Regions from separate parts of the Homo sapiens genome. Here region 2 is linked to region 1. The links come from fine-mapping of genetic effects on gene expression. Tissue or cell type: whole blood. Region 1 holds a variant in brackets; the other region holds the start of a gene. All regions are shown on one strand. Distances are between the middles of the regions.

Region 1 (2,757 bases):
AAAACAAAAGCAGAAAACTAAACAAAGAAAAAGGTGGAGTGTTAAGATGGAGGCAGGAGCTTAAAGAAACAGTCTGGCATAATAAAAACTGCAATACAAAAGTATCAGGGCTGCTCCCAGCCGGAAGAGCCCAGTCCTCTCTTGGAGTTTACTCTTATTTCCTTTTGCTTACTTTACTAATTGGTCTCTTAGCCAAATTCTTTCCTCCAGAAGGACTAAAAACCGAAGACTCCACACTTCCCAGTAACAATAGGAAGTGACAGAAGGGCCCTGGATGAGGAATCCTGACCCCAGCTTTCTCCTTAGCTTGCTCTGTGACTTTGAGCACGTCATGTTGTCACCGTGGGCCTCATTTTCTGGTCTGTTAAGTAAGTGCCACCCAGAGCTTCTTAGTAGAGGAACAGGACCAGAATTAATGGCCCAACTCTCTGTTTTGGACATAAGAGTCTGAGGTGGGAGTAGAACTTCTGACTGGAGGTAATAATTACAGCTCGTTTTCATCGCATGCTTACTGTGTGCCAGGCACTGCTGTAGAGATTTAGGCATGAGTATTTTTCTTTCATCACAGCCCCATGAGGTTGCACTTTCATATTATCAGTTTACAGATAAAGAACATGAGGCGAAGAATAGTTAAGGTCATAGCTAGTAAGAGGTGGAACAGGATTCCAAACGCAGACACTCAGACACCAGAACTTTCGCTGTTACAATAAAGATCTACTATATCTCTCCATCGTAAATGTCCTGCTGGCAATTGGAAATACCTGAAACAGCTAAGAGGCTTGCTCATCAGGCAGATGTGGCAGTCATCAAAATAGAGGTGACAGGTGGAAAGCCAGAGAGATATTTAAAGAGTGTGGAGTTGCAGCACCAGTAAATACCTGTTGACTTAACCAGCCCAGGGTAACAGCCCTTTGAACTTCTGTATGGTTGTAAAAATGTGACTTTGTTGAGGGGAGTTTAAAGCATGATTGCAGGTAGGTGTAGAAATCTTGGGTGAGGGGAAGGGGACATTTGCTAGCACCCTGCCCCCACCTGCCCAGCATGCTCTAGAGGTAATGGCCCTTTCCTTTATAGAGATTTAGGGCCGGAAATAGGTCCCTGCTCATTG[T/C]TTCAGAGCTCTGAAGACACGTTTGGGAAGTTACAAAGCAACCATGATGCCATACTTCCTTCACCGTAGAGACTTGTCCAGTAGATGACACTGGGTGTAATTTGGTCTCAGGCAGAACTGGGCCAGAATTTGATAGTGGGTAAAGCAGGTCCTTGCAGAAGGCTAAATTACAGGGGGTAATGCCTCCTTGCTAGTCCTCCTGGACTAGCAAGGGGCTGGATTTTCCATGGAAGGGAATGACCTTGTTGGTGGCAGATGCCATTCTATGGCCTTCTCATCTCTGTGTGCCCTCCTGGGGGTGGGGGTGGTCCCTTTTCTGCCCCAGCGTCAACTCTCACCTTCATGATAAGATTCCATAATCTTCGCCTCTAGCTTGGACCTCTCTCTGGCCTCAGGCTTTTATTTATATCCACCTCCTGGACCTCTGTATGTGGAGGCCCCGCTGGTAACTCACGCTCCATTTGTCCTGGTCTATTTCCCACAACTCCTGCCCTCTTTTGCTCTTCTCTTGTTAATAGAAGCTGTGTTCACCAAATTCTTCAGTGGTTTCCATCAGCTGCAGGGGAAAGCCCAGACTCCTGGGCTGGAACTCAGGGATATTCAGGTGCCAGACCCACCCACCTTTCCAGCCCCATGCCCAGCCCTTTGCATTCCAGCCACACTTGTGCCCTTTTACACCTTGGTGTCTTTGACTGATTTTTTATTAGGGTGCCTTTGCTTTCTGTAGCAGTCTGATTGCTCCTTTTTATCCTTCAAGACCTGGCATAACACCTTAGAGAAGCTTTGTAAGACTATAATCCTCTCCCTCCCCAGAAGAGGTCCTCCTTCCTTGGGGCTCCCTTGGCCTTTTTTTTTGGAGATACAACCTTGCTCTGTCGTCCAGTCTGGAGTGCAGTGGTGCAATCACAGTTCACTGTAGTCTTGACCTCCCGAGCTAAAGCAACCCTCCCACCTCAGCCTCCTGTGTAGCTGGGACCATAGGCACTTGCCAGCACACCAGGCTAATTTTTAAATTTTTTGTAAAGATGAGGTCTTGCTATGTTGCCCAGTCTGGGCTCAAACTCCTGGGCTCAAATGATCCACCCACCTCGGCCTCCCAAAGTGCTAGGATTATAGGTGTGAGCCACTGTGCCCGGCCTCCCTTGGCCCTTTCTGCATGCCACTAGTTCACGTTTTCCATGTTGCATTGCTAATATCTTTTCCCACGACCTTCCTGCTGGACACCAAGCTTCTCCATGGAGAGAAGCTTTCTGTCAAAGACTCTCACACTCAATTTTGTGTTCCCAGTCCCAGGAAAATGCTCAGGAGATGTGGTTTAAGAAATGAACCCATGGTTCAACAAATGGGTCAGAATTTCTGGGAGAATGGGCCTGTGGTTTACTGGGCCCCTCAGGATTTTATCCAAAGCATAATGGTGGTAAAGGGAAGGACAGATGCCTGGAGAGGCTTCCCAGATACCATGCCGCCCAGGACTCTGCATGTGTGAGGCCCTTGGGCCTCCCTGGCCCATCCTCCCTTCCTCCCCTGTTGTCTCAAATCTTGCAACAACTCACCACCTTCCTGTCTCAGCCCAGGACTCTCCCTTTGTTCCAGTCCTTTTAGAAGTCTCCTCACCTCTTCTAGGAAGCCTCTCTTCGTTAAATAGGATG
Region 2 (2,500 bases), 45 kb before region 1:
TACAGGGAGGGAGGGGGGTGCAGCAGGCAGCGTGATCCCGAAGGGGAGGGGTGTGGGTGCACAGAACCAGAAGGACAGGGACAGCGGGAGAGACAGAGGGAAAGACAGGGAGGGAGAGAGAGAAAGAGAAAGAGTTAGCCATTCGTGCGCCACGCCGTGCCGCGCGCCCCGGGTACCTTGGCGGCGGCCTCTTCGGCGGCCAGGAGGCTGTCCTCCGCCTTGTGCAGCTCCTCCAGCACCCGGTCCCGCTCGTCCTCCGACACCCGCAGCAACTTCTCCTTGGCCGCGATGTCCTCCTCGAGCTGGGGGCAGCGGCGGGCGGGCGCGGGCGGCCGGCACGGACCGGGTGTTAGACACACACAACACACGGGCGTCGGGTTGGCTGGGGCCCCTCGGGCTCGGGGCGCCGCCGAGTTGGAGTGCAAAGGACCCGAGGTAACTTCCTCTTTACCCGAGCTGGAACCGCTCCGCGGCTCACCCCGCACACCCACCTGCCCTGGGACGAGACTCCTGCCGAGGTCTCAGCGGGCTCAAGTCCACTACTTGGGGACACAGAAGAACGCCACTGCTGGCCTGGCTTTCGGGCTGTAGCCTCCATTCCGCCCCATCTTTGTTCTTAGGTAACAACTCCAGGACTCCCTTCTCCTCCCCAAGTTTAAGGTTCCTTTCTCCCCAGTCAAAAGTCAACGAACTTCTAACACTTGAGTTACTCGACCCCCTTTCTCCATCCCTCGCCCTTCCTTCAAACGTCCCCAGGAACCGGGTGTCCTCCTCCCTCCCCCAAACTGATTCCCAGTCCTGAGAATAAAGCGCCTCTAGGACTTGATTTCGCGGGCCATGGGAACCAGAGAAGGGAAATAAGCGTCCTCAGACCAGACTAAGTTAGACTAAGCCTGGCTCTTGCGTTTCCCTTCCTTCTTTCCAGACGCGCGCCCTGGCCGCCCTGGGTGGTGGTGGGGGTAGGGTGGTGGCTCCCCGAGTCCTCGGGGTGGGGATCCAGCCGGGGGTGCCAGGCTCGAGTCCCGGCGCTCTGGGCGCGGGCGCAGGGCCGGGGAGGCGCAGACCTGCTTGCTCCTGTCTTCCGCCGCCTTCTTGTCGGCCTCCGCCTGCTCAGCTCGATCCAAGGCGTTCTCCTTGTCGAGCTTCAGCATCTGCATCTTCTTCTTGATGGCGTCCATGGTGGCGGCGGCGAGGGGCCCTGGGGCTGCAGCAGGAGCGGCGGGGCGAGCGCGCGGTCGGGCGGAGGAGCGGGAGTGCGAGCGCGGAGCCGCCTGCTTCTCCCAGATATGTACTTTCCCAAGGGGGCGACCGCATTCCTCAAGACAGCCAATACTTTTTTGGAAAAGCTTTTTTCTCCTGCCCCCCTTCCTCCTCTCCTCCCTCCGCCCCGTGCCCCCTCCCCGCTCCTCCCGCGGGGGCCGCTCGCCCATTCGCTGCCGGCCGCCGGCCTCCCAGTTGACGGTGGATATGACTATATATGGGGACCCGAGCCGCCGAGGCGGCGGCCGGAGAGGCCGCCCTGTTTCTAAACCTGCGCGCCAGGGAGAGGGCGTTGGGGCCGAGCCGGGGCCGAGGCGCAACCCTCCGCCCTCCGCGTGCCCTTCTCCCAGGGCCGGCACCCAGCCATTAGGGTCCCCAACCGAGCCCGCCCTGAGCTGCCGGAGGCCGGGAGAGCGCGGACCAGGTGGTGGATGCGCGTCGCCCCCCTGTGCCGTCCCCCGGCGCGCTTAGCCAAAGGCCCGGGGGCTTCCCAGCCGTGCTGCACCCCGCGTCAGGGTCAGTGCGCTCTCGGCACCCGCCAGCGCCTCCCCGGCAGCTCTCAGCCAGCCAGGTGTCATCCTGCGCGCTCACGCTCTGGAAACTCAACTGCAGCAGAGAAAGGGAGAACGTGGGAGAAAGCCTGGGGCGGCTCTTGAGACTTTCTCTGCGGGCGCGGGTCAGAGAGGCAGGGGGCGGCACAGCGACAGCACACGGAGTCTTGTTTTCTGCCTGCCCTTTCCCCCAGCGGAGGGACAGTCAAATACTTTAGGGACACAGGACTCAGTGGCGTACTTCTGTGCTTGCTGTGCAGTGCCTCCAAAAAGGTGTGCATGTGTGCGTGTGTGTGCGGGTGGCAGTCTAAGGGGAAAGAACATTGAGTTTAGACTCAGGCAATTTGGTCTGTGGTCTCTACTCTGCCACCAGCAACTGTGAGACCTTGTTTGCTGCCCGCGGCTTCCTCAACTTTAAATCCAGCGGGTAGATAATCCCCGAGGTCCCTCCAGATATAACTTGTTATCATTTTTCTTGCACTGATTTTAGGGAGTCGGCCTTCCATGTTAGATGCTTAGGTGCCAGGTTTCGGAAAACATGGGATCGGCGTTAACCTGGCTAAGTCATTGCATCCGCAGCCGCAACTCTGAGGAGGCTCTGCCGTGTGAGCTGTGCTTGGAAGGAGGAGGATTTCCCCCAACACTTCTTATTTTTAACTACTCCTCCCATCTCCCAAGGGGGAAAGGCT

The links. PIP is the estimated chance that this variant, and not a neighbour inherited with it, causes the effect.
Region 2: it holds the start of TPM1, and the variant in region 1 is fine-mapped to the expression of TPM1 in whole blood (TOPMed, PIP above 0.99).

What each region holds. Positions count from the first base shown.
Region 1 is chr15:62,996,523-62,999,279 of GRCh38, reverse strand. No RefSeq gene overlaps it. Among named protein-coding and RNA genes, the nearest start is that of TPM1, 45 kb to the left of the region's middle. The variant T/C (reference allele first, on the strand shown) is at 1,109.
Region 2 is chr15:63,041,508-63,044,007 of GRCh38, reverse strand. TPM1 (tropomyosin 1) reads right to left here and starts at 1,261. Exons shown (of 10, transcript NM_001018005.2): 1 at 1,065-1,261. The coding sequence starts at 1,178. RefSeq lists enhancers at 1-489, 1,403-2,317.